5 separate regions of the Homo sapiens genome follow, and regions 2, 3, 4 and 5 are each linked to region 1. Evidence: fine-mapped expression QTL. A gene starts in region 1. Each other region holds a variant in brackets. All regions are shown on one strand. Distances are between the middles of the regions.

The links.
Region 2: its variant is fine-mapped to the expression of PIGB in whole blood (TOPMed, PIP 0.95).
Region 3: its variant is fine-mapped to the expression of PIGB in CD4 T cells (CEDAR, PIP 0.95).
Region 4: its variant is fine-mapped to the expression of PIGB in whole blood (TOPMed, PIP above 0.99).
Region 5: its variant is fine-mapped to the expression of PIGB in whole blood (INTERVAL, PIP 0.96).

What each region holds. Positions count from the first base shown.
Region 1 is chr15:55,316,743-55,321,870 of GRCh38, forward strand. PIGB (phosphatidylinositol glycan anchor biosynthesis class B) reads left to right here and starts at 2,480. Exons shown (of 12, transcript NM_004855.5): 1 at 2,480-2,671; 2 at 3,533-3,668; 3 at 4,531-4,648. The coding sequence starts at 2,509. It overlaps PIGBOS1 (PIGB opposite strand 1), which reads right to left and starts at 2,381. Exons shown (of 2, transcript NM_001308421.2): 1 at 2,122-2,381; 2 at 442-1,125. The coding sequence starts at 1,050. The coding sequence ends at 886. It also overlaps a transcript of RAB27A not described here. RefSeq lists enhancers at 2,240-2,309, 2,360-2,449, 2,510-2,589, 2,660-2,739.
Region 2 is chr15:55,379,138-55,384,137 of GRCh38, forward strand. The region is part of intron 3 of CCPG1 (cell cycle progression 1); the gene reads right to left. The region is part of intron 10 of DNAAF4-CCPG1 (DNAAF4-CCPG1 readthrough (NMD candidate)); the gene reads right to left. Among named protein-coding and RNA genes, the nearest start is that of MIR628, 8.6 kb to the left of the region's middle. RefSeq lists a silencer at 3,449-3,628. The variant A/T (reference allele first, on the strand shown) is at 2,155.
Region 3 is chr15:55,260,470-55,265,601 of GRCh38, forward strand. The region is part of intron 2 of RAB27A (RAB27A, member RAS oncogene family); the gene reads right to left. Among named protein-coding and RNA genes, the nearest start is that of RAB27A, 27 kb to the right of the region's middle. The variant G/GA (reference allele first, on the strand shown) is at 2,076.
Region 4 is chr15:55,496,364-55,501,495 of GRCh38, forward strand. It overlaps DNAAF4 (dynein axonemal assembly factor 4), which reads right to left. Exons shown (of 10, transcript NM_130810.4): 2 at 1,844-2,221; 3 at 1,349-1,496. The coding sequence starts at 1,966. DNAAF4-CCPG1 (DNAAF4-CCPG1 readthrough (NMD candidate)) reads right to left here and starts at 2,221. Exons shown (of 16, transcript NR_037923.1): 1 at 1,844-2,221; 2 at 1,349-1,496. The variant A/G (reference allele first, on the strand shown) is at 2,274.
Region 5 is chr15:55,479,586-55,484,717 of GRCh38, forward strand. The region is part of intron 4 of DNAAF4 (dynein axonemal assembly factor 4); the gene reads right to left. The region is part of intron 3 of DNAAF4-CCPG1 (DNAAF4-CCPG1 readthrough (NMD candidate)); the gene reads right to left. Among named protein-coding and RNA genes, the nearest start is that of DNAAF4-CCPG1, 16 kb to the right of the region's middle. The variant AATC/A (reference allele first, on the strand shown) is at 2,659.

The DNA.
Region 1 (5,128 bases):
TAGTGGATTAAAAAACATCTGTGTCATATCTGCCATCCTCTCAAACAACATCTACCTTCTCTAAAACCTCAATTTGATCTGAGCCATCCCAACTCTCAACTACTCCTCCACACTGCCTGAGATGAAAAACGGCTGGGATTGAATGACTGCCAAAATATATTAAACCAATCTAACTGCAGGGTAACGGAGTGGATTTCTGCCTGAGGTAGTTTAAGTTGGTTCACATATCTACAAACACTATTGCAAACACCCTTCCCAATTATTATATACACACTGAGACTGGCACCCCATGATACTGCATATGCTGAATTCCTAGAAAAATAAACCTCAAGTAGAAAATATTCCTAAAATATTCACTTTTGTTTAAAAGGAAATTACTTATCTGTCCTGGTAAAAAGACATAAAATGACAAATATACAATAAACATTAAAATTAACAGTGTTAGGTTAAAAAATCATTATCCATGATTTATTTTTAAGTACATCTATGTTTTTGCTAGATTAGAGTTAACATAATTAAATGGAACTTTAAGCAATTATTACAGTTCATCTCCATGAGGTATTTGTGGGTTTTTTTGCTTTTTGTTTTTTTAGATGGAGTCTCGCTCTGTCACCCAGGCTGGAGTGCAGCAGCGTGATCTTGACTCACTGCCACCTCTGCCTCCCAGGTTCAAGTGATGCTCCTGCCTCAGCCTCCCAAGTAGCTGGGATTACAGGCGCATGCCACCAAGCCTGGCTGATTTTTGTATTTTCAGTAGAGACAGGGTTTCACCATGTTGGTCAGGCTGGTCTTGAACTCCTGACCACCTGATCCACCCGCCTCGGCCTCCCAAAGTGCTGGGATTACAGGCGTGAGCCACTGCGCCAGGCCTAACTCCATGTAGTATTAACTTTTCTTCTCTTCTGATTCTTGTACCAACTGCATCTTTTCTTTTAATTCCTTCTGATCTTTGGCATACTGTTCAAATACTGGTTGAAAAATATATACTCCTCCAGCAATTCCAAGGACAGTGGCAAAAAGCAGTTGTGCAAAAGTCAATCTCCTAAACATTGCTGCAACAAATACAGCTCAAGGAAAAGCTGGTTTTGGAAAGTCACACTCCACACCCAGGAAATCTCTTCAAATCTGCATACAAAAATGGAAAGCAAAGCCATCACTTAGTACAATGTCCTTTTAAAAGATGTTATGTCACTACTTTGCACTGGAGTGAACAATATTTTTATAATATGTTACTAATTAAAACAAGAATATAAATACATAAGGAGTACAGGAAGTGAATTAGGGAAGGGTATAAGACAAAACTAAAACCTTTTCTATTACAGAATGTTCTCAATGGTTTTAAATGCATACTTTTTCTTTTTTTTTTTTTTTTTGAGACGGAGTCTCGCTCTGTCGCCCAGGCTGGAGTGCAATGGCGCAATCTCGGCTCACTGCAAGCTCCGCCTCCTCGGTTAACGCCATTCTCCTACCTCAGCCTCCCGAGAAGCTGGGACTACAGGCGCGTGTCACCACACCCGGCTAATTTTTTGTATTTTTTGTAGAGACGGGGTTTCACCGTGTTAGCCAGGATGGTCTCGATCCTCTGACCTCCTGATCCGCCCGTCTTGGCCTCCCAAAGTACTGGGAATACAGGCGTGAGCCACCGCGCCCGGCCTGGTTTTACTTTTAACAAGAGGAGTGGGCCGCACGCGGTGGCTCACGCCTGTAATCCCAACACTTTGGGAGGCCGAGGCGGGCGGATCACGAGGTCAGGAGTTCCAGACCAGCCAGGCCAATATGGTGAAACCCCGTCTCTACAAAAAAACACAAAAATTGGCCAGGCGTGGTGGCGCGCCTGTAGTCCCAGCTACTTGGGAGCTGAGGCAGGAAAATCACTGGAACCCGGGAGGCAGAAGTTGCAGTGAGCCCAGATTGCGCCACTGCACTCCAGCCTGGACTACAAGAGCGAAACTCCGTCTCAAAAAAAAAAACAAAAACAAAAACAAAAAAAAAACCTAACAACAGCAACAACAACAAAAAAAATAGGAACCATTCGGCCTGTTTCCACATCTGTACAACAAGCTAAATCATCCCTACCCTGCCTACCTCGTTGAACAGGCATTTTTTGTGAGAGCAACGAACCTGAAATGTTAACACCAACACTGACGTCTACAATTACCGTTACCGTTTTTAATAACCACTCAGGTACCTCCGACTGTTCTGCGCCTGCTCCACGTCACTAAACTCGCTACCGCCTGCTCCCCTCCAGAGACCGGGGGCCTTCCAGCAGTTTTCGGACCCCCGAGCACAGAGACCGCCAAGCCAAAGGCGAGTAGCAATCCCTCGGTTCGGAAACGGCGAAAGGAAACCGCAAGGAGGCCACCACGTCGGGTGGGAGCTACGAAGTTGCCCGTTCCCGGTTACTTCCGGGCTTGCGAGCGACGACTGCTCTCAAAGGCCAAACTTAATGGATGGACGAGCAGCGCGCTACTGCAGCTTTCTTCCGCCTTAGGAAGGTGGCGGCCAGGGATGAGGAGGCCCCTAAGCAAGTGCGGAATGGAGCCGGGGGGCGGAGATGCCAGCCTCACTTTGCATGGTCTCCAGAACCGCTCCCACGGCAAGATAAAGCTGCGAAAGAGAAAGTCTACCTTGTACTTCAACACCCAGGAGAAGAGCGCCAGGCGCCGCGGGGGTGAGTGAGGGGACACTGTCTGGAGAGCTCCTACCCCCATCTAAAAGGAACCCCCTCCATTTCATTACCAGCCAGTTGCCCGTTGAGCTCTGTGTTGCCAGATCTTGAGTTTTGAAATGCTGGGAAATGCTGGAAACACAGATTTTAATATAAATTCTGATTTTTAAATGTTGGCAACTAAATTCAATTTTTTAAAAAATACTCTGTATTTGGCCGACAGGCTGTCCATTTGTGGTCAAGAGCAGGACTTTGGAGACATCACACAGACCCGGGTTTGAATCCTGATAAGTAATTTACAACTTTATTTGGACAAGGCAGTTTAATTTCTGGGCCTCAATTTGCTCGTCTGTAAAATGGGGCTAATAATACCTATCCCATAATATTGTTTGGAGGATTAAGTGAGATGCATGTGAAGAAATTAACACAGTGCCTGGCATATATAATAGTAATCATCAATATATATGTACAGAGGACCATTTTATATTGCACATATACAAAGGGCTGCTTCCCAAATTAGTAATTTGTTAGCTGGTTTCTTTCATTAGATACACACATAGTATGACCTAATTAATTAGCCTAAGGCCTTAGTTAACCCACTCTTTTTTTTTTGTATTTATTTTAATATTATCTTTACACAATAAGTTGCAAGAAAAGTTGGTTAAACTAAAAGAGTGGCAGTCACCCAGTGATGACGCTGTGGTGCTTGTATAACCAACCAAGTTGGCTTTAAGAATGGTGTGGAGGGACCAGAGGTCACTACTGTGCCTTACAAGGAGCCAACCAGAGCAGCAGATTTTAAGTTTTGCAAGTGGAACTGCCTGACTTTTGTGCCACTATTACCTGTTTTGTTCTGTTTTTCAGATCTTCTTGGAGAAAATATTTATCTGCTCTTGTTTACCATAGCTTTACGAATATTAAACTGCTTTTTAGTGCAGACAAGTTTTGTTCCAGATGAATACTGGCAGTCTCTTGAAGTTTCACATCACATGGTTTTCAAATATCCTTTGTGGTTTCTTTTCCAGACTATGAGTGTGTATTCATCTTGGAAATTGTGCTCAGTTTCTTTTAGAGTAGTCCCCCTTGCTCCCTCGTCTTCAGTAGATAGTTTCCAAAATCCCTAGTGGATGCTTGAAACTGTAGACAGTACCAAACTCTATATATATTGTTTTTATATATGTAAAAAATACACACACGCTTATGATAAAGTTTATACAAATTAGGTACAGTAAGAGATTAACAGTATTAAAATATAACAAGTATAACACAATACTATAATAAAAGTTATGTGAACTTTTATGTGGTCTCTCTCAAAATATCTTCATATTTTCAGACAGTGGTTGACTCTGGGCAACTGAAACATGGAAAGAGAAACCACAGATAAGGGGGGACTACTATACATATTTTCAGTTTTCCGTATTTTCCCCAAATAATTTTAACTCATCAAAGTATACCATTATTTTATACAAATATTTCTCCTGTATCTTTCTTTTATGTTAATATACTTGACACAGCCGTTAGCATACATTCCCACAGTACTTAGCACTTGGAGGATACAGAGAAAGTAAAAAACACATTACTGCCTTGAAGAAGTTAAGAGTTTAGTTGGCCAATTGAATTTTTAATGCAAATATCCAGTATAAAATGCTGTTTTAAGACTGCCACAAAATAAAATATTGTTTTATAAATGGAAATGAAAATAGATTTTGCCAGGTGAAGTGGTGTGCACCTGTAGAGGCAGGACCACTTGAGCCCAAGTTTGAGACCAGCCTGGGCAAGAGAGTGAGACCCCATCTTAAAAAAAAAAAAAACACGGAAATAGGTTTCAATATTATTGGACATTTACTCCTTAATGTTACTAATTATGGTTATTTGACTTGGGAATGGACAGAGAGACTGAGGAGTTACACTTATCCCTTAATCTTTGCAAGCATTTACAAGATTCTTCATCTTTTAGGGAAAGATAGTGTTCAGTTGCTGGTAAGTTTAAATAAAAGTAACTAAATGATATTGGGGCCATGGAATTTGTTTTTAAAAGGCTACTGTTGCTGAAGTCCAGCCATATCTGGGAAGCCCATGATACTACAGACATACTGTGATGTGTAACTCTTTAGTTTGTGCTGAAATACAAGACTGAGCATGAAAATATCCTGCTATGAGGAATCCTGTTATGATGTGCAGATTTTCAAAATGACTATATTATGTATTATTTGGACATTAGAAGTATACTTCTTTCTTTTTTTTTTTTTTTTTTTTTTTTGGGACGGAGTTTGCTCTTGTTGCCTAGGCTGGAGTGCAATGGCGTGATCTTGGCTCACCACAACCTCCACCTCCCGGGTTCAAGCGATTCTCCTGCCTCAGCCTCCCGAGTAGCTGGGATAACAGGCATGCACCACCATGCCCGGCTAATTTTGTATTTTTAGTAGAGATGGGGTTTCTCTGTGTTGGTCAGGCTGGTCT
Region 2 (5,000 bases), 62 kb after region 1:
ATGAAAGTATGTATGTATATGTACGTGTGTGTGTGTGTGTGTGTGTGTGTGTGTGTCTAAATGCCTTATAAGAAAACATAAACTATAAAAAACAAGGACTCAGGCGGGGTGCAGTGACTCATACCTGTCACCCTAGCACTTTTGGGAGGCCAAGGCTGGAGGACTGCTTGACGCTACAAGTTCAAGACCAGCCTGGGCAACACAGCAAGACCCTGTCTCTACAAAAATAAAAATTAAAAAATTATTTGGGCATGGTGGTATGTGCCTATAGTACTAGCTACTCAGAAAGCTGAGGCAGGAGGATTACTTGAGCCTAGGAGTTGAGGCTGCAGTGAGCCATGATCATGCCACTGCACTCCAGCCTGGACAAGAGAGTGTGACTATGTCTCAAAAAAAAGTCAGAGAGAGGGCAGTCCAGGCACAGTGGCTCATGCTTGTAATCCCAGGACTTTGGTAGGCCAATGTGTGAGAATCACTTAAAGCCAGGAGTTCAAAACCAGCCTAGGCAACATAGCGAGACCAGTTCTACCAATAATTTTTTTTAAAAAAGAAAGAACTCAAAACACAGAAAAACTAAATGTCACTACAGAAGATATATTTTATAAGAACCTCCTCAAAGAAAATGTGTACAAACAGAATGATGACTTCACAATATATTTTTAATGAAAAAGAGCATAAAGGCCGGGCACAGTGGCTCAAACCTGTAATCCCAGCAGTTTGGGAGGCCAATGCAGGTGAATCACCTGAGGTCAGGAGTTTGAGACCAGCCTGGCTAACACGGTGAAACCCCGTTTCTACTAAAAATACAAAAAATTAGCCAGGTGTGGTGGTGCGCGCCTGTAATCCCAGCTACTCCAGAGGCTGAGGCAGGAGAATTGCTTGAACCCAGGAGGCGAAGGTTGCAGTGAGCCGAGATCATGCCATTGCACTACAGCTTGGGCAACAAGAGTGAAACTCTGTCTTAAAAAAAAAAAAAAAGAAAAGAGCATAAAATATTAAGAAAAGTTAAAAATAATATAACATATAAATTTATGAGCAAAGTACACCAAATATCAACAGTAATTATTTCTAGATAAAAGAATTATAGACCATTTTAAATTTCTTTTGCTTACTATTTTTTTTTCCCTATCATGAACATGCATTTCTTTTTGTTTTTTTTTTGTTTTGTTTTGTTTTGAGACGGAGTCCCCCTCTGTCGCCCAGGCTGGAGTGCAGTGGCGCCGTCTCGGCTCACTGCAAGCTCCGCCTCCCGGGTTCACGCCATCCTCCTGCCTCAGGCTCCCAAGTAGCTGGGACTACAGGCGCCCACCACCACGCCCGGCTAATTTTTTGTATTTTTAGTACAGACGGGGTTTCACCGTGTTAGCCAGGATGGTCTTGATCTCCTGACCCCGTAAGCCGCCCGCCTCGGCCACCCAAAGTGCTGGGATTATAGGCATGAGCTACCGCGCCCGGTCGATCATGCATTTCTTATGTAATTTAAGTCCTGCAAAGAACAGGGAAAAAAAAATATTTTTCAGCATTATATACCCTCTAACAGAAAATTAATTAATTTAGAGGTGAGATTCCGCCACAGTACTCGGCCGGGGTGCTGGGGCCAGGCGCGGTGACTCATGCCTGTAATCCCAGCACTTTGAGCGGCTGAGGCAGGCAGACCACGAGGTCAGGAGTTCAAGACCAGCCTGACCAACATAGTGAAATCCCGTCGCTATTAAAATGGCCGGGCGCGGCGGCTCACGCCTGTAATCTCAGCACTTTGGGAGGCCAAGGCGGACAGACCACGAGGTCAGGAGATCAAGACCATCCTGGCTAACACAGTGAAACCCCGTCTCTACTAAAAATACAAAAAATTAGCCGAGCGTGGTGGTGGGCACCTGTAGTCCCAGCTACTTGGGAGGCTGAGGCAGGAGAATGGCGTGAACCCGGGAGGCGGAGCTTGCAGCGAGCCGAGATCCCGCCACTGCACTCCAGCCTGGGCAACAGAGCAAGACACCATCTCAAAAAACAAAAAAATTAGGCCGGGCACAGTGGCTCATGCTTGTAATCACAGCACTTTGGGAGGCCGAGGCAGACTGATCAGGAGGTCAGGAGTTCGAGACCAGAGTGGCCAACATGGTGAAACCCCCGTCTCTACTAAAAATAAAAAATAAAAAA[A/T]AAATAGCTGGGCATAGTGGCAGGCACCTGTAATCCAAGCTACACAGGAGGCTGAGACTTGAACCGGGGAGGCGGAGGTTACAGTGAGCTGAGATCATTGCGCCACTGCACTCCAGCCTGGGCAACAGTGCGAGACTCTGTCTCATAAAGAAAAAGAAAAAAAAGAAAATTTTCTTTAACATATGCAAGTAAATGCATTTCTTGGAAGAAACTGTCCATAGCTTTCAGATTCTCAAAAGGATCTCTGACACAAAAAAGATGAGAATCACTTTTCAAATGAGAGTAGTAATAATCAACGTGTAGGCTTAAAAAAATTAACAGCTATAATCTCTTCTATTTCTGGCCTTGACACATCCACTTTTTTCTCCTGAGGGGAAATGTTCTGTATGCATTTTACTGTAATTTTTTTAAAAAGTTAATGAAGTAATTTAAATATGAACATAAGTGTATGCAGTAATTGTTCAGGAGTCCTATTTCTCTATATAAATAATGTGTGCATCAAATCCCATGTGAAGTATACATAATACAGATTCCATTTTACCAGATTGGAACCAGAGTACAGGCATATCTCAGATATCTGCAAGTTCAGTTCCAAACCAATGTAATAAAGCAAGTCACATGAATTTTTTGGTTTCCCTGTCCATGTAAAAGTTAGGTTTACACTATGCTGTAATCTATTAAGTGTGCAATAACATCATGTCTAAAAAACTGTACATATCTTAATTTAAAAATACATTATTGCTAAAAAGTGCTAGTGATCATCTGAGCCTTCAGTGAATTGTAATATTTTTGCTGGTGGAGAGTCTTACTTCAAAGATGATGGCTGCTGACTGACCACTGTGGTAGCTGCTGAAGGGTGGAGTAGCTGGGGCAATTTCTTGAAGTATGACAACACTGAAGTTTCCCACATGGATTGACTCTCCTTTCATGAAAGATTTCTCTGTAGCATGCAATGCTGTTTGATAGCACTTTGCCCACAGTAGAACAACTTTCAAAATTGGAGTCAATCTTCTCAAACCCTGCCACTGCTTTATTAACTAAGTTTGTGTAATATTCTAAATCCTCTGTTGTCATTTCAATAATATTCACAGCATCTTCACCAAGAGTAGATTGCATCTCAAGAAACTACTTTCTTTGCTCATCCATAAGAAGCAACTCCTTATCTGTTCAAGTTTATCATGAGATTACAACAATTGGATCACATTTTCAGGATCCACTTCTTTTTTTTTTTTTTTTGAGACAGAGTCTCGCTCTGTTGCCCAGGCTAGAGTGCAGTGGCGCGATCTTGGCTCACTGCAAGCTCCGCCTCCCAGGTTCACGCCATTCTCCTGCCTCAGCCTCCCGAGTAGCTGGGACTACAGGCGCCTGCCACCACGCCCAGCTAATTGTTTGTATTTTTAGTAGAGATGGGATTTCACCGTGTGAGCCAGGATGGTCTCGATCTCCTGACCTCATGATCCGCCCACCTCAGCCTCCCAAAGTGCTGGGATTATAGGCATGAGCCACCACACCCGACCAGGATCCACTTCTAATTCTAATTCTCTTGCTACTTCTACCACATCTGCAGTTCCTTCCTCCATTAAAGTCTTGAACCACTCAAAGTCATGAAGGTTGAAATCAACTTCTTCCAAACTCCTGTTAATGTTGATATTTTGACCTTTTCCCACAAATCACAATTGTTCTTAAAGGCATCTAGAATGGTGAATCCTTTCCTGAAGATTTTCAATTCACACACATTGCCCAGATCCATCAGAACAATCACTATCTATAGCAGCTACAGCCTTACAAAATGTATTTATTAAATAATACAACCTGAAAGTCAAAACTACTCTTTGATCCATGGACTACAGACTGGATGTTGTGTTAGCAGGAAACAAAGTAACATGAATCTCCTTGTACATCTCCATCAGAGCCCTTCGGTGATTGACCAGGTATTGCTATACAATGTCTAGTATTTTGAAAGGAATCTTTTTGTTCTGAGCAGCAGGTCTCAACACTGAGCTTAAAATATTCAGTAAACCATGTTGTAAACACATGGCTGTCACCTAGGCTTTGTTGTTCCATTTACAGAGCACAGGCAGAGTAGATGTAGCATATTTTTTAAGGGTCCTAGGATTTCTCAAGGCATGGTAAGTAAACACTGGCTTCAACTTAAAGTCACCAGCTACATTTGCCTCTAACAAGAAAGTGAGCTTGTTCTTTGAAGCCTAGAAGCAGATATTGACTTCTCTGTAGTTAGGAAAGTCCTAGATGGCATCTTCTTCCAATAGAAAGTTGTGTCATCTATACTGAAAATCTGCTGGTTGGGGTAGCCACCTTCATCCATTATCTCAGTTAGATCTCCTGGATAACTTGGTGCGCCTTCTACATCAGCACTTGCTACTTCACCTTGCACTTTTATGTTACGGACATAGCTTCTTTCCTTAAACCTCATGAACCAACCTCAGCTAGCTTCCGCCTTTCTTTCTACAGCTTCTTAACCACTCTTAGCCTTCATAGACTTGAAGCAAGTTAGGAAGGACTTGTTCTGGATTAGGCTATGGCTTAAGGGAATTTTGTGGCTGGTTCAATCTTCTACCAAGACCACTAAAATTTTCTCCATGTCAGCAATAAGGCTATATGGCTTCCTTATCATTCATGTGTTCACTAAGAAGGACTTTTAATTTCCTTCAAGAACTTTTCCTTTGCATTCACAACTTGGCTAACTATCTGGCCCAAGAGACTTAGCTTTTGACATGCCTTCCTCAAATAAGCTTAATCATTTTTAGCTTTTGATTTGAAGTGAGAGACACACAACTCTTCCTTTCACCTGAACACCTGGAGGCCACTGTAGGGTTATTAATTGG
Region 3 (5,132 bases), 56 kb before region 1:
CAAAAACCTGCACACTGATATTTATTATAGCAGCTTTATTCATAATTGCCAGAACTCAGAAGCAACAAGATGTTCGTCAGTAGATGAATGGATAAATAAACTGTGGTACATTCAGACAATGGAAAATTATTCAGCACTAAAAAGAAATGAGCTATCAAGCCATGAAAAAACATGGAAGAACCTTAAATGCATATTACTAACTGAAAGAAGCCAATCTGTATGATTCCAACTATGTGGCATTCTAGGAAAGGCTAAACTGTGGAGATAGTACAAAGATCAGTGGTTATTAGGGGTTGGAGTGGGGGAAGTGAAAGAGATGAATAGGCAGAGAACAGACGATTTTTAGGGCAGTGAAACTATTTTGTGTGACACTATAACATAGATAGATGTCATTATACATTTGTATACATACCCATAGAATGTACAACACCAAGAGTGAACTCCAATCTAAACTATGGACTTTGGATGATAATGTGTCAATAGAGGTTCATCATGTGTAACAAACGTACCACTCTGGTATGGGATGTTGATAGTGGGGGAGGCTATGCATGTTGGGGGGTTTGGGAGGGAAGGGAATATATGGAAACTGTACTTTCTACTCAGTATTACTGTGAACCTAAAACTGCTCTAAAAACTAAAACTCGGCCAGGCATGGTGGCTCATGGTGGCCTGTAATCCCAGCACTTTGGGAGGCCGAGGCGGGTGGATCACGAGGTCAGGAGTTCAAAACCAGCCTGGCCAAGATGGTGAAACCCCCATCTCTACTAAAATATAAAAATTAGCCAGGCGCGGTGGCAGGCACCTGTAATCCCAGCTACTCAGGAGGCTGAGGTGGGAGAATTGCTGGAACCCGGGCAGCAGAGGTTTCAGTGAGCCATGATCGTGCCACTGCACTCCAGCCTGGGTGACAGAGTTAGACTCTGTCTCAAAAAAAAATAAAAATAATAAATAAATAAACTCTAAGAAAAGAATATTTTTGGCTGGGTACTGTGGCTTACACCTGTAATCCCAGCACTTTGGGAAGCCAAGGCAGCCAGATTATGAGATCAGGAGTTCAAGACCAGCCTGGCCAACACGGTGAAACCCCATCTCTCCTAAAAATACCAAAAAAAAAAAAAAAAGTTAGCTAGGCTTGGGGGCGTGTGCCCGTAGTCCCAGCTACTTGGGAGGCTAAGGTAGAAGAATAGCTTGAACCCAGGAGGCGGAGGTTGCAGTGAGCCGAGATCACTCACTGCATCTCAAAAAAAAAAAAAAAAAAAAAAAAAAGCATCTTTTTGAAAAGTTTTCGGGCCAGGCACAGTGGCTCATGCCTGTAATCCCAGCACTTTGGAAGGCCGAGGTGGGTGGATCATGAGGTCAGGAGTTCAAAACCAGCCTGGCCAACATGGTGCAATCCCATCTCTACTAAAGATACAAAATTAGCTGGGCATGGTGGCATGCACCTGTAATCCCAGCTACTCGGGAGGCTGAGGCAGAAGAATTGCTTGAACTCAGGAGACAGAGGTTGCAGTGAGCCAAAATGGCACAATTGCACTCTGGCCTGGGTGACAGGGCGAGACTCCATCCCAAAAAAAAAAAAAAAAGTTTTCAATAAACTCTTTTCATGAAGATATTGTACATCTTTCAACTTATTGATACTTTGTTTTTGTCACTACTGTGATAACTTTTAAACATGTATCTTCTATTTCTTACATAGCCATACTAATTCCAGCAATCTGTTAAACATATTAGGTAAAAATAAATTACTTCTTCCTTTCTAATCTTACCTTTTAGTCTAATTATAAAAAGTCGGCCAGGCGCGGTGGCTCATGCATGTAATCCTAGCAATTTGGGAGGCCAAGGTGGGCGAATCACAATGTCAGGAGATCCAGACCATCCTGGCTAACACAGTGAAACCTCGTCTCTACTCAAAATACAAAAAAATTAGCCGGGCGTGGTGGTAGGCACCTGTAGTCTCAGGTACTCGGGAGGCTGAGGCAGGAGAATGGCGTGAACCCGGGAGGCAGAGCTTGCAGTGAGCCGAGATCACGCCACTGCACTCCAGCCTGGGCAACAGAGTGAGACTCTGACTCAAA[G/GA]AAAAAAAAAAAATAGGTAAGAACAAAACAAAACAAAAAAACAGTGAATAGACATGGTGATACAGGTAGTCTTATCTCTTTTTTTTCTTTTTTTTTGTTTTTTTTTGAGACAAGATCTCACTCTGTTGTCCAGGCTGGAGTGCAATGGCACAATCACAGCTCACTGCAGCCTCGGCCTCCCAGGCTCAGGTGACTGTCCCGCCCCAGCCTCCCTTGTCCAGGCTGGTCTGGAACTCCTGGGCTCAAGCCACCCACCTGCCTCAGCCTTCTAAAGTGCTGGGATTATAGGTGTGAGCCACCACGCCCAGCCCAGTCTCGTCATGTCTTGATTCTAACATTTCACTGTTAAGAATGACATTTGCTGTAGATTTTTGGTACATATTTTTATCAGGTCAAGGAAGTTCATCTATCCTAGTTTGCTAAGTACGAGTATTATGAATGGGTGTCAACTTTATCACATTTTGTTTCAGCATGTATCAAGGAGACTGCTACTTTTTTCCCTTAATCTGTTAATTTACCAGCTTTTATATTTATTCCGCCTTTGATATTTTTCTTTCCTTTCTTCTAGCTTCTTCTCTCACTTTCCTGGTTTCTGCTCTTTTCTCATACTTTCTACCTAGAATTTCTCTTTCAAAGTAATTCTGTTTCTTCCTTTTGCATTCGCCAGGGGGTAGGGGAGAGCAAAGGGAGGTAGTTCTCAGGGTAATTAATAAATATTTGAATGGCTAAAAAGTGAAATACCTAATAGGTGCCAGGTCCTTGAGGTGACCTTACCCAAAACCAGTCTTCAAATGTGCCATATTACATTTATATAAGTCGCTCCCGTCTTGGGCTTAAAAAAAAAAGTTACTTGAGATGCAGTCACTAGAGGAAGAATTATAGTAGAATGCTTTAAACAGAAATGGTGTTTCACCCTCTAGAGAAACATCGAAAATGCATTAGCTATCATCCGAATTTTCTTTTGAACACAGTACTATATTTAATTTTAACTACTAGCACTTGGGTTCCCCCATTTAATACCTAGAAAGTAGGGCACTAGATTATAAAAATGCCAAGTATCTGAAGAGAGACAAGGAATAACGTTTATGCATTCTGTAATTCAACACTGTATGTTAAAGAGGCCAGCCCATGTCTCTTCTTAATTTTAAAATTAAAGAAGCCGAACCCAAATTTCTGAATTCTAGCTAATAATTTAGGACCCACTTAAAAAAACTTTGCCAAGTTTTTCCATTAGTCTGTTTAATTGTCCTAAAGTCTGTATTTCATTTAACTCCATGAAATGCATATATTTGAGGAACGATGTTAGAGTAACCATGATCTAGAAATGAAAAGGGCACTTACACAAAAGAAACAAATCAGCAAACAACTCTGTAACAGAATTCTGGAGTCTTTAGTCTTACAAAAAACCACATTAAACATCGTAAGAGAATACAACATTTAGTCCACACCTGACTCCAAAGAGTCTCTCAACTATAGCCAGGGTTATTTTTTCTGTTTGTTTGTTTGTTTTTGTTTTTTGAGACAAGAGTCTCACTCTGTCACCCAGGCTGGAGTTGGAGTGCAGTGGTCCGATCTTGGCTCATTGCAACCTCTGCCTCTGGATTCAGGTGATTCTCATGCCTCAGCCTCCCAAGTAGTTGGGAGTACAGGCATGCACCACCACATCCGGTTAATTTTTCTATTTTTAGTATAGACAGGGTTTCGCCATGTTGCCCAGGCTGGTCTCAAACTCTTGACCTTAGGTGATCAGCCGGCCTCGGCCTCCCAAAGTACTGGGATTACTTTGGGTGTGAGCCACTGTGCCCAGCCAAAATCTTTATTTTGTGATTTCTACAAACCTTTAATCACGTTTAGATTTTAAACATTTTTCCAACCTCTATAAGCTAGAATAGATGGGGATCTGTTTTTTAACAGAAATTTTAAGCTGTTTTAGAGAAAAATAAACTTGGCTCAAATGACAAATGTGAAATTATCAAAATTACGAAGCATAGGAGGATGTGGGAAAGGGTTGTAGTGTTCACAACACATAGGAAAGTATTTCCCAAAAAATATATATTAAATGTACTTCAAATATAACAGAAGTTAAATGCAGAATAGCATACATATACCTCTCCAAAATCTGTTAATAATTTTAAATGAGGTTTGATAAGTAAATTGGCCTCCACCAATGATCCAAAGATATACTAGTAAAGCTTGATGCCACTGAGGAGGGAGAGAGCCTGGTTTAAATGACTGAAATTCATTCAGTCATTTAAGCAGTAGCTCATGAGCACATCAATTAAACATCTAACAAACAAGAATTGTGGATGTGCCACTATGTTAAGCACCAAGAATGTGGCTCTAGAAGAGCAACAGTCTAATAGGTAAGCTGTTTGTGGAAATGCCCAAGGAAAATGCATGGAAACAAGAACTATAGGGCCCGGCATGGTGGCTCATGCCTGTAATCCTAGCACTTTGGGAGGCCGAGGTGGGCGGATCACCTGGGGTTGAGAGTTCAAGACCAGCCTGACCAACATGGTGAAACCCCATCTCTACTAAAAATACAAAATTAGCCGGGCGTGGCGGCGCATGCCTGTAATCCCAGCTACTTGGGAGGCTGAGGCAGGAGAAACATTTGAACCCAGGAGGCGGAGGTTGCAGCCAGCCGAGATCGCACATTGCACTCCAGCCTGGGCGACAAGAGTAAAACTCTGTCTCAAAGAAAAAAAGAAGAAGAAGAAGAACTGTAACAGAAGTATGCACAAGCCGTTGGGGAGATGGGAGGGCTGGGGAGATAGCACAAGAGGGAGAAGAAGGAGCCCACAATGTCTAAGGAGGGAATCAGAAAAACTTCACACAGGGGCATCTGAGCTAAGGACTAAAGTCAGAATGTGAGTGTACAGGCACACATAAGGACAAGTGACAGATGTGAATGGACAAAAATTACACAGTGCACTAGATAATGTGGGGAACGACTTTACCTCACATGTCAGCCAAATAAGCATTATCCTTTCAAGATAACAGAAACTATAAGCAAATAATTCTTGATGCCAATCCAAAACATGTAACTGAGTTTTG
Region 4 (5,132 bases), 180 kb after region 1:
AAATTCCATAGCTGATTCAAATATGTAGCCAGGGTTGGGAACATCTGCTCTAGAGTGAAACTGCTAAGGCTCCAGTTCCAGGCTGCCAGTCACTAGCTGTGTGATTTTGCCAATTACTCAAACTTTCCATATGTCAGTAGCCTCCCCTGTAAAAAAAGGGTAATAATACCTAAGTGACAGGTTGTTTCATGGAATTACAGGCATGTTAACACCTAACGCAAAGTTAAGTACTCAATAAAGGCTATATATCAGGAGGGCTTACCCTTAAGACATGAGCCCACATCTTCTGCTTAATGTGCTCTAACTTTGACTAATTCAGCCTTTAGGTTTATTTAAATGGCTGCTGAAGCACTGTATCACTTAAATTAGGCTCATAAGCCTTTTTTTTTTTCTAAAACAGCAATTGAATGAGTTCAGGATATGCCACCCCAAAATATGCTGCTTTCATATAGCGATCATTTTGAGTTAAAGGCACTTGAAAGCAGCAAATGCAGGGAGAGGTTTTGCCAGAACTCCTCTTATCTGCCTAAAAACAGATTTTCCAAAGGAACCCAAGTGTCATAAATCTCTTCCCCTGGAGTTTCATTAACCAGGGAATATTGACTATTCTCCCAGAAAAGGAAACTACAAGTCAACACCACACTCTGACAAATTTTGTTAAAAGCTATCACATTTCCTATCTATTCTTCTAAGGATCCATTCATCTTTCCTAAAAATCATTTCCTGTTCTAAGCGGCCTACATCCCCTCCCCCTTCCCCTATTAAGACAGTCCCTAAACTCTCAAATCTCACCGCTTGGGGGGTATTCACTTTTTTCCCTGTGATGCCCTCAAGCACTAATATTAAAAATTCATAAATTTCTATACATTTTCTTCTGTCAATCCTTCTGTTGTTAGTTTATTTTATAGACCCAGCTATTGAACCTTGGAGAGTAAAAGGAAAGTCTATCTGGCCGGGTGTGGTGGCTCGCACCCGTAATCCCAGCACTTTGGGAGGTCAAGGCGGGTGGATCACTTAATGACCGGTCAGGAGTGTGAGACCAGCCTGGCCAACATGGCAAAACGCTCTACCAAAAATACAAAAAAATTTAGCCGGGCGTGGTGGCGGACACCTATAATCCCAGCTACTTGAGAGGCTGAGGTAGGAGAATCCCTTGAACCCCGGGGGCAGAGGTTGCAGTAAGCCGAGATCATGTCACTGCACTCCAGCCTGGGCGACAGAGCAAGACTCTTAAAAAAAAAAAATCTATCTTCCCCTACACAATATAGGTGCTTCAAAATAAAATTTTTTAAAAGGTCTGAAACCGAAAAGGTACAACCAGATGAACATCTTTTAATAAAGAACTTACCACCCGTCACAGAAAGGGTCTCCCACATGGCCGCTTCTTTTTTATACAAGGTGAAGACAATGGTGTCATTCCCAATCTTTGCTTTGCTGCTCTCATCGTCTATGGGAGCATAAAGAAATGCCTCAAATAAAAATGGAGGAAAGTTGACCTATGCAGAAGGGTGAAAACAGAAACTAAGTTAGTTACACAAATTAAGCACGCGTATTAAGAAACACGTGAAAAAGGTAAAATAACTTTCTAAAAGGCCCACTAAATTTATGCCAGGTAGTGAAAGATTAGCAAGGCATATGAGGAAGCCCTGGATAAAAGTAGTCTCTGATCTGATTATCTGTCTACAGATGGTGTGTTACCTGTATGGGATTCATTTTTTTAATAGGATTAAAAATTTAGGACGTTTATCGGCAAAGATGAGCCTGTTGCTCGTGCCCAGCTGCGCTCTTGCAGAAGCTTCGGACCACACCCCCGGAGACCGGCAGGCAAGACTTGCATTCTTACCTTCAGATAGTTTTCCGTGCAGAACACGTCCGTGTCTCTGACGCACACGCCTTTGAGGGGCAGAGACAGAAAGACCGCAGTCTTCGTCTGCTGCCAGCTGTAATCGCTAACCTGAAGAGGCATTCCGGTAGCAACGGGAGCGGATAGCGCGGCTGGTTGCTTCTTGCGCCTGCTTGGTTGCTAGGGAAGCTGGGGTTACCATGCGCCAGCCCTTCCGGGTCAGGCCGGCCGGGAGCCCGGCGTTCCCAGCGTGCTCCGGCGCCAGCACCTCGCGGACTCCATGCGTGACTATCCAGGCGCCCAGACCAGAGAGTGATGCCGATTCTTGGGGTTACCTTACGATCTGAGCGAATGTTCAAAGAAGTAGACCCATACCCTCTGCTTGAGAAAAAAAAAAAAAAAAAAAAGCACTCTGTGGGTCGGGCGCGCT[A/G]GCTCACGCCTGTAATCCCAGAACTTTGGGAGGCCGAGGCGGGCGGATCACCTGAGGTTGGGAGTTCGAGACCAGCCTGACCAACATGGAGAAACCCCGCCTCTACTAAAAATACAAAATTAGCCGGGCGTGGTGGTGCATGCCTGTAATCTCAGCTACTCTGGAGGCTGAGGCTGAGGCAGCAGAATCGCTTGAACCCGGGAGGCAGGGGTCGCAGTGAGCCGAAATCGCGCCATTGCACTCCAGCCTGGGAAACAAGAGCGAAACTCCGTCTCAAAAAAAAAAAAAGAAAAGAAAAAGAAAGAAAGAAAAAAAAAAGCACTTCCAGCCTCATAATGCGATAATGCTAAGGAGGGCTGTGGGCATAAGGCTCGGGAAAGCAGCCCATGAGGAGCAGGTGCAATGCCCATACGCCCTTGGTGCAGTGTCTTGTCTGTTTATTCTGACTGAGGCTATTAAGAGTTAGCGCTAGTTGTTCTGTTTTGCAAATTTCTTGGTCATACAGACTGTGAACAAATGTGAACCTGAAAGAGCCAATCCGTCAACATCCAGAGCGGCTAACTGGGTCTAAATTTAAAATAGAGACACGTGGTCATTTACCTACTAGAGGTCACACATGGACTCTGCGTTCTCCCCAAACCCACACCTCTGTTGAGTGTTGGGTCTTATAGGGCTCACCTGCCTCAACCAATCAGGGCTCAGCTGTATCAACCAATCAGAACTAAGTGCGGTTCAATCGTTCATTTGTATAAACGAACCTGACTGGGAACCTGGGCAGAAACTTTTGCTGTAAAACCCAAACCCTCCCTTTGTTCTCTGGAATGCACCTTTGTTTTACACCTAAGGCTTCAACTCCCCAGTTTGCAAACTGTTCCCTGAAATAGTTGCTTTGCTCCAAATTCCTCTTCAGAAAACGTTTGTTCACAACACATACCAGGAGCTTGTCTAAAACTATTGTATCCTGCAAATCCTATTAACTGTAAGGCCGCCAAAAGCACCTATATAGGTTTTGCTCCAAAGTTTGAAAACTGAAGAGAAACCACCCTATGATTCATCTGACAAATGCTTTGCTACAAATCTGGAATAGGGTAAATTGGAATTACACTGACACATTCCGTAAGTGCTTAAGTAGAATCTGAACTTAAGTGCTGCAGAGAAGCTTGAAGATTATGTAGTCTTATTCTACATATTTAAGGAATCTGAAACCTATACACAAACCATTTTCGTATAGATTAGTAGCAGACCATCATTAAAATCCTGATCTCTTAACTCCCATTACAATGTTTTTGCTCCAGGCTGCTTTCTGCACACCCAGTTTATAAATTGCTGGGATAAAACAGTGAATGTATACAATATTTAGATACACACAAATTACTTCCCACTTGGGGCTTTTGATTTTCAACTTTTTTTTAACTTTAAAAAAAAAACAGAGAAACTGGGCCTTTGTGGAAATCTGAAAGTATAATACAAAACCCTGGATTTTAAACTTATTTACTTTTGGAAGCCTTTCTTTCACACAAATTTCAATGCTCCTTAGAAATTCATTGAGGAAAGATAAGGAGCAACAGACTTGAAGAGAAAACCATCTTTTCCCCAAAATAGGGCACACTCACTACCTTAGCAGTTCATCATCTCAAGCTTCTGGTAACTTTGAATACTGGGAGTCATCCTAGACTTGCTTTCCCTTGTCCCTTTAAGCTGAGAAACCCACGAATCCCATGGACTTTTTTAAAAAAATTTCTTTTGTCATTTTCCCCCTTTTGTTCTATTCCTACTTTTACCATATTGTTTCCAAATCTTACATTATCTTCTAAAGACAGGGTTTATGCATTTCTTTCATATAAAATGTTAAAGTCCAGGTTCTCCCACTATACAGAAATATGTGAGATTTTATATGCATGAAAGATAATAATGTAAAGGATACTTTGTGCTGTCGGGGATTTCAGGAAAATCTGTTAGCAATCACTTTGCTAAACACATACACACCTCTGCAGTGAAATTATTCTCCTGACTACCATGATCCTACTAAACTTTTAGACTCTGAATGAATTATACCTTAAAAACTTGTCAAGTTGGCCGGGCGTGGTGGCTCATGCCTGTAATCCCACCACTTTGGAAGGCCGAGGTGGGCGGATCACCTGAGGTTGGGAGTTCAAGACCAGCCTGACGAACATAGAGAAAGCTCGTTTCTACTAAAAATACAAAATTAGCCAGGCATGGTGGCACATGTCTGTAATCCCAGCTACTCGGGAGGCTGAGGCAGGAGAATTGCTTGAACCCAGGAGGCAGAGGTTGCCATGAGCTGAGAGCGTGCCATTGCACTCCAGCCTGAGCAACAAGAGTGAAACTGAGTCTCAAAAAAAAAAAAAAAAAAAAATGGAAACTTAAAAAAAAAAATACCTGTATGATATTGGAGTAAGAAAGGATTTTTTTGTTGTTGTTTTTTCAGACGGAGTCTCACTCTCTCACCAGGCTGGAGTGCAGTGGCGCGATCTCGGCTCACTGCAACCTCCACCTCCGGGGTTCAAGCGATTCTCCTGCCTCAGCCTCCTGAGTAGCTGGCACTATGGGCATGCACCACGAAGCCCAGCTAATTTTTGTATTTTTAGTAGGGACGGGGTTTCACCGTATTGGCCAAGATGGTCTCGATCTCCTGACCTCATGATCCGCCCACCTCGGCCTCCCAAAGTGCTGGGATTACAGGCGTGAGCCACTGTGCCTGGCAGGATTTCTTTCTTTCTTTTTTTTTTTTTTTTTGAGGCGGAGTCTCGCTCTTTCGCCCAGGCTGGAGTGCAGTGGCGCTATCTCGGCTCACTGCAAGCTCCGCCTCCTGGGTTCACGCCATTCTCCTGCCTCAGC
Region 5 (5,132 bases), 160 kb after region 1:
GGGGTCAGGCAAAAAGAGTCACATTTTTCTTCTTGCAGAGAGCCTATAAATGGACATGCAAGTAGGAGACATATCGCTAAATTCTTTTCCTAGCAAGGAATATTAATATTAATACCCTGGGAAAGGAATGTGTTCCTAGGCGGAGGTCTATAAATGGCCGCTCTGGGCTCTGGGAATGTCTGTCTTGTGCAGTTGAGATAAGGACTGAGATACGCCCTGGTCTCCTGCAGAACCCTCAGGCTTACTAGGGTGGGGGAAAAACTCCACCCTCGTAAATTTGTGGTCAGACCAGTTCTCTACTCTTGAATCCTGTGTTCTGTTGTTTAAGATGTTTATCAAGATAATATGTGCACTGCTGAACATAGACCCTTATCAGTAGTTCTGCTTTTGCCCTTTGCCTTGTGATCTTTGTTGGACCCTTGTCAGTAGTTCTGCTTTTGCCCTTTGTCCTGTTCCCTCAGAAGTATGTGATCTTTGTTACACCCTTATTAGTAGTTCTGCTTGTTGCCCTTTGAAGCATATGATCTTTGTATCTACTCCCTGTTCTTACACCCCCTTTTTGAAACCCTTAATAAAAACTTGCTGGTTTGAGGCTCAAGCAGGCATCACAGTCCTACCGATATGTGATGTCACCCCCGATGGCCCAGCTGTAAAATTCCTCTCTTTATACTGTCTCTCTTTATTTCTCAGCTGGCCAACACTTATGGAAAACAGAAAGAACCTACGTTGAAATACTGGGGGTGGGATCCCCCGATACCCAAGGCCCCCTCCAGCCTTTAACCAGGGCCACTGTAGCAGGGACCTTAACCACTTGGGAAAAGGAAAACAACAAGCTAACCTACATGTTCATCATAGAGAACAATTTTTGTCTTGAAAAACAAGCAGCCTTTTTCCTGTGTGGGACTAGTTCCTACTTACGTTTACTAGCCAAATGGACTGGAACCAATTGTTTGCACTGCACACTTGTTTACTTAGCCCCCGAGATCAATATAGCTCCCAATAACCAGTCTCTCATTATACCTTTAACTGCAACCATCAGGCACAAACAAGCCACCCAACTCATACCCTTTCAGGTAGGGTTACGAATAACTGCAGGCGTAGAAACAGGAAATAGTGGGCTTCCAACTTCTCTATCCTATTACCAACGCTTGTCCAAGGAGCTTTCAGACGGCTTGGAAGACACTGCCCAAAGTATGCCTTACAAAATCAGGTAGACTCTTTGGCAGTCACTTTACAAAACAGAAGAGGACTGATAAGGTTGGGCTCTGTATCCCCACCCAAATCTCACCTTGGATTGTAATAATCCCCACGTGTCAAGGGTGGGACCAGGTGGAGGTAAATGAATCATGGGGGCAGTTTCCCCCATGATGTTCTCATGATAATGAGTGAGTCTCACAAGATCTAATGGTTTTATAAGGTTTTATGGCATTTCTCCTGCTGGTGCTCATTCTCTCTCCTGCCACCCTGTTAAGAGGTGTCTTCTGCCATGATTGGTAGTTTCCTGAGGCCTCCTTAGCCATGTGGAACTGTGACTCAATGAAAACTCTTTCCTTTATAAATTACCCGATCTTGGGTATGTCTTCATTAGCAGTGTGAGAATGGACTAATACAGGGACTGGATCTCCTAACTGCTGAAAAAAGTGGCTTATATCTTTTCCTAGAGGGAAAGCACTGTTTTCATATCAACCAATCAGGATTAGTAAGGGATGCTGCCCCAAAATTAGCTGACCAGGCCTCTAAAATATGACAACAGTTGTCCAAGTCATGGGGCCCCTGGTCAAGGATACTAAGCTGGGTTTCATGGCTCCTTCCCCTAGCCAGCACATTATTAATACTTGTACTTACATTGATTTTTGGACCATTTTTGTTTAATCATGTAACCAGATTTATTTCTTCTCACCTAGAGAACATTAAGCTTCAAATGATCATGCAGCAGGGCTTCTAGCCAGTTCCAGGTGACGATGCCAGCCCTAGCCTTCAAGAAGTCACCCTCTCTCCACTAGACAGAGCAGGGCAAGAGTTCTGTGGTCCCCAATATGTAGGGACTCTGCCCTAATCCGCACGAAGCAATTACAGAAGACAGACCATCAGTTCCTCTGCCTCCCATAAAGATTTATTGGGATCAAGTCTCTCAGGGGGAAATGAGGCAGAACAGGGTCTGGAACAGGGAGCCTGAGGCCAACTAGCAGCTGGCTTATTGGAATTGGGCCAAAAGAAAAACCCCACCTCTCCATGCCAAGGGCCAGAGGCCCCTCCCTCTACAAAACCCCCTCTCTCCCCTATTGCTAATTAGTTATGGGCCAAGACTTCACTTCAGCCTCTGATTAGTAATGGGCCAAGCCTTCATTTGTGTAGGGTGCAACCAATGGGAAGCCTCTAAACGGTACCCAGGAATGCTACCAAATTCTTTTAGTTTAGTACAAACCTGAAAGAACATTGCAATCGGGGCTCTTGAGCTGCTTGCTTGAGCCCGCTTACACTCTGTGGAGTGTACTTTTGCTTCAGTAAACCTGCACTTTCGTTGTTTTGTTCTTTTATTGCTTTGTTTGTGCATTTTGTTCAATTCTTTGTTTAATGTGCCAAGAACTGGGACAACTCATAGTCAAGACTTTCCATCTGGCAACAACAGAAGTGTTGGCAAAGATGTAAAAAAATTAG[AATC/A]ATCATACATTGTTGGTGGGAATGAAAAATAGTATAGCCATTGTGGAAAACTATTTGATGATTCCCCAAAAAGCTAAACAGAATTACAAATGACCCAGCAATTCTATTCCTAAGTATATACATGAAAGAATTAAAAACAGACACTCAAGGCCAGGCGTGGTGGCTCATGCATGCAATCTCAGCACTTTGGGAGGCCGAGGTGGGTGGATCACCTGAGGTCAAGAGTTAGAGACCAGCCTGGCTAACATGGCAAAACCCCCTCTCTACCAAAAAATACAAAAAACGAGCTGGGCATGGTGGTGCTTGCCTGTAATCCCAGCTACTCAGGAGGCTGAGGCAGGAGAATCACTTGAACCCAGGAAGGAGAGGTTGCAGTGAGCTGAGATCATGCCATTGCACTCCAGCCTGGGCAACAGAGCAAGATTCCATCTCAAAAACAAAACAAAACAAAACAAAAAACAGATACTTAAATACTAGAAGTACATGAATGGTCATAGTAGTACTATTTGTAATAGCCAAAAGGTGAAGAGAACCTAAATTTTCACCAACTGATGAATGGATAAACAAAATGTGGTGCCATCCATACTATGCCATATTATTCATCCATAAAAAGGAATGAAAAACTTATACATGCTACAATATGTATAAGCCCTATATACATTTTGCTAAGTGAAAGAAAGCCTCCCATAAAGACTGATGGGCATCACATCCAAAGACCACACACTGTATGTGAAATGTCTAGAGTAAACAAATCTATAGAAACAGACAGTAGATTCTGTCTCCTCCAGGGGCTATGGTGGAGGGAAAAGTAGGGAGTGACTGCTAATGAAAATAGGGCTCTTTATTTATTTATTTATTTATTTATTTTGAGACAGAGTTTTGCTCTGTCGCTTAGGCTGTAGTGCAGTGGCTCAATCTCGGCTCAATGCAACCTCTGCCTCCCAGGTTCAAGCAATTCTCCTGCCTCAGCCTTCCGAGTAGCTGGGACTACAGATGCACACCACCACACCTGGCTAATTTTTGTATTTTTAATAGTGATGGGAATTCACCATATTGGCCAGGCTGGTCTCAAACTCTTGACCTTGTGATCCGCCCCCCTCAGCCTCCCAAAGTGCTGGGATTACAGGTGTGAGCCACCATGCCTGGCCAATAGGTCTCTTTTTATGGTTATGAAATGTTCCAGAATTACATAGTGGTGATGGCTGAATAACTTGTATACATACTAAGAAACAATGAATTCTACACTTTAAAAGAATGAACTTTATGGTATATAAATTATATCTCAATAAAGCTGGGGTTTGTTTTTGTTTTTGAAATGGAGTCTCACTCTGTCGCCCAGGCTGGAATACAGTGGCACAATCTTGGCCCACTGCAACCTCTGTCTTCTGGGTTCAAGTGATTCTCCTGCCTCAGCCTCCGGAGTAGCTGGGATTACAAGTGCACACCACCACACACGGCTAATTTTTTGTATTTTTAGTAGAGATGGGCCAGGCTGGTCTCGGATTCCTGACCTCAAGCAGTCCACCTGCTCAGCCTCCCAAAGTGCTGGGATTACAGGCATGAGCCATCACACCCAGCCAATAAAGCTTTTTTTTTTTTTTTTTTTTTTTTTTTTTTTTTTTTTTAAGAGAAAGCATAGGCCAAATAATGGGAGAAGAGAGGAAAAGAGCAAGCAAGAATAAATGTTATACTTACCAATATCTCAAAGATTTAGGAAAAAAGGGAATGAGTGGGTTTCAGAGATATAGTTCAAATTAAAATGGCACTGAAGAGCACATCAAAACCACAATGAGATACCACTTCACACCCATTAGGATGGCTACTCTCAAAAAACCAAAATAACAAGTGTTAGTGAGAATGGGAGAAACCGGAATCCTTGCACACTGTGATGAAAACATAAAATGGTCCAAATGCCATGGAATACAGTATGGCAATTCCTCAAAAAATTAAAAATAGGCCGGGCGCGGTGGCTCATGCCTGTAATCCCAGCACTTTGGGAGGCTGAGACAGGTGAATCACGAGGTCAGGAGATCGAGATCATCCTGGCTAACATGGTGAAACCCTGTCTCTACTAAAAATACAAAAAAAATTAGCCAGGCGTGGTGGTGAGCACCTGTAGTCCCAGCTACTGGGGAGGCTGAGGCAGGAGAATGGCTTGAACCTGGGAGGCGGAGCTTGCAGTGAGCCGAGATCGCACCACTGCACTCCAGCCTGGGCAACAGAGTGAGACTCCGTCTCAGGAAAAAAAAAAAAAAAAACAGAATTACCATTACCATATGATCTGCTATATCCACTTCTAGATACAAGCCCAAAACAATTGAAAGCAAGATTTCAAAGGGATATTTTTATACTCGTGTATATTAGTCAGGGTTCTTTAGAGAGACATAACTAATAGTATAGATAGATATATATAAAGGGGAGTTTATTAAGTATTAACTCACACAATCACAAGGTATCACAATAGGCCTGCT